2 linked regions of the Homo sapiens genome follow. The protein of the gene in region 1 interacts with the protein of each later gene in a pairwise test. Each region holds a gene or a part of one and is shown in the gene's direction. Other genes may lie near its edges. The genes, in order: CTU1 and URM1.

Region 1 (7,964 bases):
GAAGGGGGAGTGAAGTGAGCCTATTCCAGGAAGGGAAGTTTGCAAGACATCTTGCAAACAGGATATGGTAGGTGATAGAGAAATATCTATCTGACTCCTAGAATCCTAATTTGGATAATGATGATGGTTCCATCACTGAGAAGGGGGGAAATGTGGTTGTCTGGGGCTCAGAGCAGATTGGGATGAACAGCATGGTGTGCAAGACATCGGGGGGAGCCACGAGAAGTGCAGAGAGAAGAGAGGGTGCGAGGAGGAGCTGTGGAAACTCACATAAAAGGCTCCTGGGATGAGGAGAACGAGAGACAAGGCCAAAGAGAAACAGAGGGCCCTTCAGAGAGTGTTGCCAACAGAGAGTCTTTCCTGGTGCCTCCTCTGGCCAACAAAGTTTATTAGCACTGCTGTGGGAACCCAGGCAGACCTACCATTTAGTAAGGAGATGCAAAAACTAACAAGAAGGCAGTGGGACAGAGCTGGACTTAGGGCAAAATAAGGACTGTTTGATACACTACAATGAAAACAGACAAACCAACCAACCACAGACAAAAATCCCGTTCCTCAGTAGGCTCCACGGGTGAACGAACTCTCTTCATGCAGAAATTCTACCCAGGGAAGCTTCTAGCCCTTCGAGGGGTGGGGAAGCAAGTGCTGCCAGTAACAAGCACCAGATATAGGAAATGGCCCTCAGAGATGCACATTGATGCTGCAGGAACCAAAGCTCCCAGAGCTGGAGAGAGACAGCTGAGCCCAGCCACCATATCTTCCACCAGACGCGGATTGCTTAGGATGGCAGCTAGATGACCTGGAGATGGCAAGGCATTCTGAGGCTGGAAGGGTGTGCAGGGACCAGATCATGCAGCACCTCCGTTGCAGTCTGCAGAGGTTTGACAATGGAAAGCCTGATGGCAATGGGGAGCCATGGAAGAGTTTCGAGAAGGGGAGAGACAAGGTTAAATCTGGGGCTAGTGTGGGAGGATTCAGGAATGAAGGGATTAGAGGTTGGGGTGAGAGAGTCCAGGCAAGAAACGGCCGGCGCAGTGGCTCACATCTGTAATCCTGGGACTTTGGGAGGCCGAGGTAGGCAGATCACTTGAGGTCAGGAGTTCAAGACCAGCCTGGCTAACACAGTGAAACTGTGTCTCTACTAAAAATAAAAAAATTAGTTGGGCATGGTGGTAGACACCTGTAATCCCAGCTACTCCGGAGGCTGAAGCACGAGAATTGCTTGAAGCTGGAAGGCGAAGATTGCAATGAGCTGAGATCATGCCACTGCACTCCAGCTGTGGTGACAGAGTGAGACTCCATCTCAAAAAAAATAAATAAATAAATGAATAATTTAAAAAAAAGGATGAGCTGAGCCAAGGCAGGGCCACAAGGATGAAGGGAATGGTCTGAGAAACTTTCAAGAAGCAAAACTGGCAAGTTTCACTGAACAATGGGGAGCAGTGGGTGAGAAAAAGAGTCAGCGAAGTGATTCAGGATCCTCACCTAGAGGCTGAAGCATGCCAGTGCCACCACCAGGGGCTAACTGTGCAGGTCCGAGTCTCGGGATGCAGTGGAGATATGCAGGAAAGTGGGGAGGCATCAGGGCAGAGACGGAAGTTGCGGGAGTGGCAGGAGTGGATGAGCTCACCTGGGGAGTTTGCAGAGAAATGACAGCGCTGTGGAGTACAAGGCTCCTGGCAAGTTGATTGACATGGTTTGGCCAGAAAGAGGACCAGGGAGGGTAGATTTTGTGGTCAGGGCAAAGAGACTCAGAAGTAGGTAGAGCCCAGGTTAGACCTTTATTTGTCAATAAAGAGGCCACTGGTGTTGATCGGGAGACTGTGTTAGGGGAGACAGGAAAGAAACCAGACAGCAGAGGGCTGGGAGTGAGAGGGCTTCTCATGGCTGACCTCACCTCTTTTCCCATCTATCTCTGGAGCCCCAAATATCCCACTCTTATCCTGGTCCCACAGAGGAGAATGGGGAAACTCTATACACCCCGATTCAGCATGCACTCCCACATTGTTGCAGGACAGAGGCTGCCTCTGAGGAGGAGAACTAGACAGTGGGTGGGTGGGGGGAGACGACAGGGAGACTTCACTGTAGAGTCTATGCACTGTTTCCATTTTATAGCATTTAAGTGCATAACCTGATTAGATAACATAAATTGCATTCAAACAAAAGGCACCCTGTGCTTTCTTGCCACAAGATCTTTCTTTGCTCAGGCGATTTCTTCTGTATTAAAAGGCCATTTCGACCCTCAAATTCTCAACCTCCTTTGCCACACTTCACACCTCTTCCAGGAGCAAGCACAGCTTGGAGACTAAGGAGACAGGCTTTGAGCAAGGAGCTACAAACCAGAGACCACCAGCCAAATCGGGCCTGCTGCCTGTTTTTACATGGCCCACAAGCTACAAATGATTTTACATCTTTAAATGGTGTAAAATCTTCAAAATTCTTCAAAAGAAGAATATTTCCTGACACATGCAAATTACATGAAATTCAAATGTCAGTGTCCATCAATAAAGTTTTATTGGTATACAGCCACCCTCACTTGCTTATCTTATATCAATGGCTGCTTTCAACATACAACAGCAGAGTTGCCACAAAGACCCTGTGGCCCACAAAGCCTAAAATATTGGCTACCTGGCCCTTTACAGGAAAGGTTTGCAACCCCTGCTGTAGAGTCAGGCAGTCCAGGGAAGTGACATCACTGAGCTTCAAGATCCTCACCTAAGTAGAATTACAAGGCTGGGCATGCTGACTCACACCTGTAATCCCAGCACTTTGGGATCACTTGAGGTCAGGAGTTTGAGACCAGCCTGGCCACTATGGTGAAACACCGTCTCTACTGAAAATACTAACATTAGCCAGGTGTGGTAGCGCACCTGTAATTCCAGCTACCCAGCAGGCTGAAGCAGGAGAATCACTTGAATCCAGAAGGTGGAGGTTGCAGTGAGCCGAGATCGCGCCACTGCACTCCAGCCTGGGTGACATAGTGAGACTCCATCTCAAAAAAAAAAAAAAAAAAAGAAGAAGAAGAATTACAGTTGTACCCAACTCATATGTAACATATAATCTTAATGTTATGAGAATTGAGATGAGAATAATAACCACTTGTTGAGCACATACTATGTGCCAGAAGCTGTTCTAAATTCTTTAGAGGTGTTGTTAATTCAATTTGACTTCGCATAAATCCTATGAGGCAGGCTATTATTGCCCCCCTTTCACAGATGAACAAACTGAGATGATGCATGGCACATAGCAGCCTTTGTTGAATTTTTTTTTTTTCTGACACCCTGGCTGGCAGTGATTGAAATTGAGCTTTCAAGGCTCTTAACACTTCCATGTCAAGCTTTATCACTCCATATTGACTAAGTCCCTGTCTCCCCCACCAGGAGGACAGGGTGGTGGTGTAAGGGGTGGGGGATGCTCAGAGGACAGTAACCAAGTCTGATTCATTTGTGTCACCTAAACCTAGCCCAGGGGCAGCCTGGCACAAGGAGACCTCAGGAAATAAATTCAACAAATGAACCAACGCACACAGATGAACAGAACTGGCCCATGATAAGGCTTAAGAGTGACCTCACGGAGCTCATTTAATATGAAAGGAAGGCATCATGGTTTCCTGTTATGGGGGAAAAAAATGGGCTACAGGGTGCATGGGGTTCCTTCTCACGTCATCACCGGCCGTAGACCTACACATCCTGGGGCTCTCTGCACATCTCCACATCTCAGTCTAAGGCTCTGGTGGTCCCTTAATCTAGAGGATTTTTTTTTTTTTTTTGAGACAGAGTCTCACTCTGTGGCCAGGCTGGAGTGCAGTGGCGCGATCTCGGCTCACTGCAACCTCTGCCTTCTGGGTTCAAGCCATTCTCCTGCCTCAGCCTCCCGAGTAGCTGGGACTACAGGCGCGCACCACTACGCCCAGCTAATTTTTGTATTTTTAGTAGAGATGAGGTTTCACCATGTTGGCCAGGATGGTCTCCATCTTTTGACCTCGTGATCCACCCGCCTCGGCCTCCCAAAGTGCTGGGATTACAGGTGTAAGCCACCGCGCCGTCTAGAGGAATTTTGAGCCTCAGTTTTTTCGAGGACCTAGGTTTGGGGACCTGGATCTCAAGGGTCTCAGATATCTGAGTCCTTAAACTCCTTGTGCCCCGGTATTTGAGTCACCGGGGTCTTCAAGACCCTTGGGCCTTGTGGGGAGGGTGGAGGCCTCCAGATCCCTGTGTCTAGGGTGCAGACGGTTGTCTCCAGGTCTACTGGTTCTCTCAGGTGCTTTGGTGCCAGGGGTCTGCGTTTTTAACCCCCTTAGTCTCAAGGGTCTGAGTCTCTGAGCCTCTGGGCTCCTGGGTTAGGTGAGAAGGGTCTTTGGATCCTTCTGTTTAGAGTCTGGGTCTCCAGCACGCGCATCACGACAGCCCCCGCGTGCGCGCGGAGTTCCACTCCAATCCTCGAAGTCTGCTCTACGCATGCGCTATCTGCGCCTTTTACACTAGCGACCAACCCCTGCAGTTCCACCTTCAATTCCCACCCGCAACCCCGCCTCAAAGGGCAGAAATCATAGGCCCTGTAATCCCCTTAAAATCCTATAATAATCCCACAAAATCAGTTAATCAGAATACAACTACTTCGCCCATCCAGCAACCTGCCGGGTGACAGCGCGCTGCCATGACAACAGTACACGCAGCTCCGCCGCTCCCTGCGGCCGCGCGCAGGCGCAGAAAGTAAACGCGGGGGGAGGGGGAGCAGTGTATTTTGGGAGCGGCAGAAAGAGCAATGCAAGTGTTTCTGGGAGTTGTAGGCCAAGCGGGACCCCGGAGCCGTAGGCGCATCCAGCGGAAGTGTCGCATGGGCTTCTGGGAGTTCTAGGCAAGAAAGCCCCAAGACCTTATGGGAGTGGTAGTCTCGGAGTCACTTCCGGGCCAGGCTTCCGCGTGGTGGGCAGTGTGGGCATCCCAGCACTGAGTTCTGCCCGGGTGAGTATTTCCTCCTGCGGTGGGTCGGCATGTGGACTCCGGCTCTTTGTTGCGGTGCCGTGGGAGGGTTGAGGGTCTCTTCGAGCGTAAGGCCTCTGTGATTTCCCAGCGCCCGTGTCCCTGAGGCCTTGTAGCCAGGATTCCCACTTTGAACGCTGCGGTCCGGCCTGTCTCTTACCGGGCCACTCCCTTCCCCAAGACAGGATAAGACCATCTGCTTGCCCCCGCCCCTATGTTACTATCTGCCTGTCCCCGCCCCCATGCCACACATTATCTGTCCTTTTGACAAGGCTGCAATCCAGAGGCATCCCTGGGGTCCGCGGCCTCTCTTCTGGGAGCACTTATTATTCCCTCATCCTACAGATACTTACTGAGCACCGACTCTGCGCAGGGCGGCGGGAGCGAGGGCACCAGACCAACCCTGTCCCTGCCTTGAAGCAGAGAGACAGACCTGTCACCAGTGACAGCTAGTCAGGATCAGGGCAGCTCTGAGGGCCCTGGTGGAGGCGCTCGACTCAGTGACGAGGGTCCATAAAGTCTTTGAGGGAAGACGCTTAACATGCATGTCAAACCTGACGTGGCCAAATGGAATTCCTGGTCTTCTCACCTCACAAAATGGCCCCACCGTCCCTCCAATGCTCAGGCCAGAACCTCAAAGTTACCCTTCATCACTTTCTCTCGTCGTTGCCCCAGTCCCCACTCCAATCAGTCTTATACAAGTCCTGTGGGCTCCACCTTCAAAATAGATCCAAAATTTCACTTCTTCCCACCTCTACTGCCAGCACTCCTGTCTAGTGTGCTGACCTCCAGCCTTCTGTCCTTGTCCCTGACAACCAACAGTCCTCCCCACACAGCAGCCAAACGAATCCCACTTTTTTTATTTGAGACAAGGTCTCACTCTATCACCCACGCTGGAGTGCACTGGTGCGATCATGGCTCACTGCAGCCTTGACCTCCTGGGCTCAAGTGATCCTCCTGCCTTGGCTTCCTGAGTAGCTGGTACTACAGGCCTGTGCCACCAGGTGCAGCTAATTTATTTATTTATTTTTTTAGAGATGGGGTCTCGCTATGTTGACCAGTCTAGGAATCCTTTTAAAACATGCCAGATCATACCACTTTACTGTTCAAAAACCTCCCAAGGCTCCCATCTCCTCCTGAATAAACCTAAAATTCCACATCATGGCCTATGAGGCTCTGCTAACTTGTGCAGCCTTGTCCCCTGCGAGCGTCTCCCTTCCTCAGGACGTGGACCCCCCAGGACTGGGTGACTGTAGATTTAGGGGGTGAGGAGAGATGAGTCCAGGGTGACGTTACGTCCTGTCCTGCAGATGGGCTGGATGAAAGGTGGTGGCTGCTCTCAGAAGAGAGGGAACAGATGGGCAAGAACAGGTTTCTGCCTTTCGAGGAAGAAATAGGTTGTCTGGGCGCTTAGGGTCTGAACATCTTTAAGGTGCCCCAGCCATGTGGAGGACCAGCCAGGAGGGACATCTGAATATCATGATTCAGAGGCGCTCATAAGAATGGAAAGAAGCTGGGCACAGTGGCTTACGCCTGTAATCCCAGCACTTTGGGAGGCCGAGGCGGGCGGATCACTTGAGGTCAGGAGTTCAAGACCAGCCTGGCCAACATGGTGAAACCGCATCTCTACTAAAAATACAAAAAAAAAAAAAAAAATTAGCCAGGCATGGTGGTACACGCCTGTAGTCCCAGTTACTCGGGTGGCTAAGGCAGGAGAAACGCTTGACCCTGGGAGGCAGAGGTTACAGTGAGCCGAGATTGTGCCACTGCATTCCACCTGGGTAACAGAGCCAGACTCCATCTCAAAAAATTAAATTAAATTAAATTAAAAATCTTTAAAAAATGGAAAGAGATGGGTGCTAGGCAGGACCTGAGGACATGAAGAGGCGTCCCCAAAAGAGAATTGAGCAGGAAATCCAGGAGCACAGAAGGAGTGAGTCAAAAGTCGGGGGAAGAAAGATTCCAAGAGTTGCTGCTCACCTGTGACAGATGTTCCCGACGGTCACTGCAGATGAGTCCTAAGGGCTGCTTCTTGGGCTCAGTGGCAGGAAGAGTACTCAGGGCAGAGGGGAGAGCCAGTGCAAACATCTGGAGCAGGAGTATTCCTCAGGTGTCAGAGTAAACGACATCAAGGCTGAAGGAGAGGAGGTTGGAGAAACAAGGAGCCACACATGTAGGGCCTCATCGGCCATTAGCAGTTATTATACTAAAGTGAGATGGGATCCAGGGGAGGATGCTGAGAAGATTCAGGGCATGATCCCACTGGCTGTTATGTGAAGGAGTGTTTGTAGAGGAGGCAAGGCGGGAGCAGGAGACCTGTGGGGAGCCCCATGCAGCCGTCCAGGAGAGAGACAGACCAGACTAGGGTGCTGCCGTGGAGACGGTCCTAAGTGTTTGGCTGTTTTGAAACTACATTCAAACAGGATTTGCTAAATTTCATTTAGGTACCTGGAGTTTGAAAAGGTCCGGACTTGGCATTGCAGTTTGGTGCCACCCACTGGGAGCATGACAAGTGCAGTGAGAGAAAGAGCAGTCCAGGGTCCTGGACCCCAAAGCTCCTGGCCTGAGCAGCTAGAAGGATGGAGCTGCCCTGTACTCCAGGAGAAGCACGCTGGGTTAGAAGAATCAGGAATTTGGGTTTTGAGATGCCTATTAGACATCTGAGTGGTACTGGTCTCTGCCCTCATAGAAGTTAGAGATGGTAAATATATAGTCACATAAAATAATTCCACACATTGTGGTAAATCCTAGAAGCAGCGTGACCTGCTCTGAATGGCAAGGAGGTGACTACAGTAGTCCAGGCTGGAGGTGATGGTGGCTTGGGGAGGAGAACTGAGCCTGGGGAGTTTTTATGGGTTCACCAGGCAGGCAGGACCAGGATTTGACTGGAGGGTTGGAGTCTAGGCTGGGTGGGGAAGAATGAAGTAGGAAAGATAACAGATGAAGGTCAAAGATGGGCCGATCCATGTCTTGGTGAGAGCA
Region 2 (4,425 bases), on another chromosome or scaffold:
TGAAAGGAGCCTGGTGAATTTCTCAGAAAACTTGGATTCTGCCCTCTGGTTGCCACAGACTTGCTGTGGGACCTTAGGCGACTTACTTCGCTTCTCTGGGCCTCAGTTACTCTCTACACAGAAAGTGCTGAGGAAAAAACGTAGCTAGTACAACTGAAGAGCTAAATATTCTGTTTTATTTCATTGTAATTTAAATAGCCACATGCAGCTAGTAGATTACCATACAGTGCAGCACGGGTCTAGAATTCCAAGGAGTCATTGACTCTGTGCGTGCACACACCCATGCACATGCACACACACTCACTGGGGACACCCCATAGAAGCCCAGTGCAGTCTCCTTGGAAAGGACCAGGTTCCAGTTGCCACGAAGTTACTTCTAAAACAAGGCCAGTCCCCCACGTGAAAGGTGGCCGGTGCAGTTGTGAGGCTCGCTTATTTGCCTCGAAGCATAGGTCACTGTCAGGTCCTAAGGGATCAGGCCTAGGGGATCAGCCCTCCTTCAGGTCATGGTCCAGTGGTCCTGGAGGCCACCTCTAAGGCCAGCAGTGCTCCTTGGGCCATTACCAGTGGGAGCCAGGCTAAGCTGCCTGACCAAATGTTGACCTACCCTGCCTTATGCCAGGCAGGACTGCACGTGAGCATTGCCATGTGGCATGGCAACTGATTCGGAAGAGGCAAAACAGCCTTCTCTCCAGGATGGGCATGCAGAGGCCTAAAAAAAAGCCGAAGTTCTTTTCCAGGGCTAACGAGAATAAGATTAGACCCCTGGAAAAGTCCTACTAATGGTTACCATGACAGTGTGGCAAGCACTCCACACATATCAGCTCATTTCGTTTTCGTATAGGCCTTGTGGGTTAGACAGTATCACTTATCCCATTTTCAGATGAGGAACCTGATACTCAGAAACAAAATGACCTGCCCATGGTCTGGGTGGTGGTGCTGGCTGGCATTTGCACCCATTTTCCATCTGGCTACAAAGACCATGCATGACTGACCTGGTTTCCTTCACACTCAGACCAGCCTCCCCTTCCTGGGATATCTTTAGCCAGACCCCAGGAGGAAGGCTCCTCAGCACACTCTCCTGCAGCCCAAAGCTCTCAGCCTCTCTTCCTCTGTGCTACTGCCTCCTGCCTCTCACTCCTTGCTACTCACCACCATCTTTCCCACAGGCGGCCAGGAATTCTGGTGCTGATTAACGATGCCGACTGGGAGCTACTGGTCAGTACCTTGGGGGACATCCCTCCCCCAGCCCCTGCCCTTGCTGCTTCAGTGGGAAAGCGTTGGGCCTCTCCTCAGGCACATATAGAGTGGCTGGGTAATCCTCCGCCCCACTCCAGCCCCACACTGAGGCTGCTGGAGTCTCCCACTCCAGGTGAGGAAGGGATGGGTAGCTGGGGACATGGGAGTACTCCTCCATCCTGAAGATTTGCAGGTTGAGGTATAGGATACCCATTTTTCTGGTAGAGTCTGTCTCTTCCAGAGCAGCCAGTCCTCAGCCCCTGTTCTCCCAACTCCTGGGGTGGACCTGGGAAGGTGGCCCTGAGGGTCTCCCGCTCCCCTCTCTCCCGCACCAGGGTGAGCTGGACTACCAGCTTCAGGACCAGGACAGCGTCCTCTTCATCTCCACTCTGCACGGCGGCTGAGGGCCCTTCTCTGGGCCTGGGCACCCTTAGAGGGGAGAACGAAGCAATCAGACATCCCCTTGGGCCCTGCTTCCAGGTCTCCCTGTCCCCCTTGCCTGCCTTCTTCCCTGCTCTGTCCCCTAAGCTCCCTCCAGGCAGGGAAAAGAGGCCAGGTGCTAAAAATGAGCCTTTCTCAAGCACGTGAGCAGCGGAAGGCAGACAGGCGCCAGAGCCCAGCACTCCCTTTTCCAGCAGCTGTGGTGGGGGAGGGTTCCCCTCCAGTTTGTCAAGAGTTGAAGGAGGCTCTGTGGCCAGGTGACCTGGCTGCCTTCCACTCCTTGTACCTCAGTCTAAACATGGAGTGGCCGCTGACAAGGCGCTCCAGCCCCAGAGCCAGCGTCTTCATGGGGAAGATGAATGGACCTGAGTAGCTGAAGGAAGGCCCCTCCCTACCCAAAGACTGGAGGCTTCTCAGCCTCAATTTCCCTGTCTGTACAGCTGAGGGCTCTGCCTGTCCCCCACTGCTATCAGTATGGAACCCCAGCTGGGGTCCCCTATTGAGTGCCGACTCCCCCCACCGCCAGCAGCTGCTCCTCCAGCCACACCCCTCCTGCTCCCCCCACCCCTAGCCCTTGACCCTGGCTGGCCTGCCCCGCTCCACAGGCCACCAGATGGGCTCCTGAGACCCTCCCCAGGCTGCTTACAGCTCATTCTGCTGGGGGTAGAGATGAGGGGAGGGAGTAAGTTAAACCTTGGACTAGCAAGTAGAAGCCTGGGGGGATGCGTGTGCCTCAGTTTCCTCCTCCACAACTGAATATAGTGGCTGAAAACTGGGGAGATACTTGATGGCGCGAATGTCCGTTTTCTCTCCCTTCCCACCTCCTGCAGGAAGCAGGACGGGGCAGGCAGCACCTGGTAGGCACAGTGCTTTGCCCCTCCTCCCCTTCCCTTCTGGAAGTCTTGGGGCCTCAGTGCTTGCAACAGCCGGCCTTGGGCAAATAAAAGACTAGGTTGTTTACTAGCCTTGCTTGGAGCTTCATCCTTGGAAACGGGTGGCACCTCATATCCCCCCAGCCGTGGTCTGTGATACAACCTCTCCATCCTCAGCCTAGGGCCTCAGAGCTACCCTTCACCCAAAAGAGGGGTGGGGGTGAACACTCAGACAATCTGAGAGGGGGTAGTCTAATAGAGCCATCTGGAGAAGGGAGTGGCAGAGCCAGTCTGTGCTGACCAGTCTGTGTCCCGGGACGCATCCCCACCCGTCTGTCCAAGGCTTTGTCCCACCAGCTGCAGCCAGCAGCCTCAGAACCCAAAATGAGGGTAGCATAGATAAGACTGCTGAGCCCCCTTTCTGTGGTCTTTCCTTTCCATGACCTAGAGAAAAGAGCTTTGCTGGAGGGAGACCCCCAAAAAGAATTAGGGTGCTAACATCCCACCAAAAGCATCATCCCACCCAAAATGTTGCTTTTCATTCTATGTCAATAATTTAAGGTGGAATTTCTCTCACCCTGTGGAGATGAAAGTGGCAAAAGGTTGTCCCAGCAGTGTTGGGGGATGGGGTGTGCACATCATTCTTTTGGGGGTAGATGACCTGCTGGCTGGTGGGCTTTTCTCCAGGACTACTGCAGGTAGAGACCCTCTGGGCTTGTGTGGAGTGGGAGCAGCCGTGTTGGGACTATGGGGAGGAGCTGGTCTGGGTGCAAATTAAGGCCAGTGTTGGGGTCTGAGTGCTGTCCAGAAAGGCTGTGTGACCAACCCTCACTAGTTCCTGAGGTCAGGGTCTCCATGTTAGGGAACAGAGCAAGAGACTTGGAACAGCTCCCTACAGCTGCACTTCTAGAAGGTCAGCCTGTCCGATTCTTGTAACCTGGAGGTCCCTCCCCATCTGCAGCCCCCTGAGCTGCAGGAGCGGCCCCATCAGTGCACCTGATTGGAACACACTAGATTTCAGGTCCTGGAAACTGGGCGCTAGGATCCGTTTCCCTGGCTGCAGAGAGTGGGAGGTGTGATGTGGAATATCCCTTCTCCCAGCACACCCCAATTAATACTGAAGAGTAGGGCAGGAGGAGGTGCTGGGAAAACCGGGTTTCTTGGCACATGGGGGTGCAAGCACTGTGGTTGAAATTGGCCATGTCCAAGGCACACCAGACGATTTCAGGTCATTTTTAGCCCTAGACTGGAAAGGGGTCAGGGGACAGGTGACCTGGGCTCAGCCCCCAGCAGCTCCCAACTGCCCCTCTCCCAAGCAACTCCTGATCCCTGCTTTTGAGGAAATAAACAAATAAAACCCCGCTATCTCCGAAGATTTTTCTTTAATGAAAAGGATTCGTTTTTCCAAATTCTATTTCCAAAGCCGAGGAGATTGCCGGGCTGGAGCGCATCGTTGGTGACGCTTGCCCGTCGGACCCTGGCAGCGGCTGGAGGAGGCTCAGCCCATCGGTCCGTCCGGAGGGGCTTGCGGGAGGGGTTGGTTTGTTTGGGATTTAGGGGTTGGTTGAGGATTTGTTTTGTTTAGGTAGGGAGTATTGGGGTGATAAGTTAGAACAACTGCGAAACGAGTTAGCGGGCGCATTCGGCCGGCCTCTTCTTTCACCCCCGACTTCATGCGGCTTGGGCTGAGGGCGGACCACATTCGGCCCCGCCGCTGCGTGCCGGCTTCGTTCCGGCCGAAATTTGAAAGGAGGAAAAACGACGCGATCGACTGAAGGACCCTGCCGGCCGGGACTGGTCACCCGCAGAGAAGGAAGAAGGACGAGGATGCGGATGGCGGCGCTGGTGGCAGGGACCGGCGTCTCTGTGCGCG

Evidence for each region.
Region 2: the proteins of CTU1 (region 1) and URM1 interact in binary tests that used the Homo sapiens proteins (3 or more experiments, as listed by UniProt).

The regions. Positions count from the first base shown.
Region 1 is NC_000019.10:51,105,347-51,113,310, reverse strand, and holds the start of CTU1 (cytoplasmic tRNA 2-thiolation protein 1), read left to right. Parts: upstream 1-4,901; 5' UTR 4,902-4,964; intron 4,965-7,964.
Region 2 is NC_000009.12:128,388,092-128,392,516, forward strand, and holds the end of URM1 (ubiquitin-related modifier 1), read left to right. Parts: exon of another isoform or gene 1-1,169; coding exon 1,170-1,218; coding exon of another isoform or gene 1,219-1,422; exon of another isoform or gene 1,423-1,574; coding exon 1,575-1,643; 3' UTR 1,644-3,925; downstream 3,926-4,425. UniProt on the Homo sapiens protein: Acts as a sulfur carrier required for 2-thiolation of mcm(5)S(2)U at tRNA wobble positions of cytosolic tRNA(Lys), tRNA(Glu) and tRNA(Gln). Serves as sulfur donor in tRNA 2-thiolation reaction by being thiocarboxylated (-COSH) at its C-terminus by MOCS3.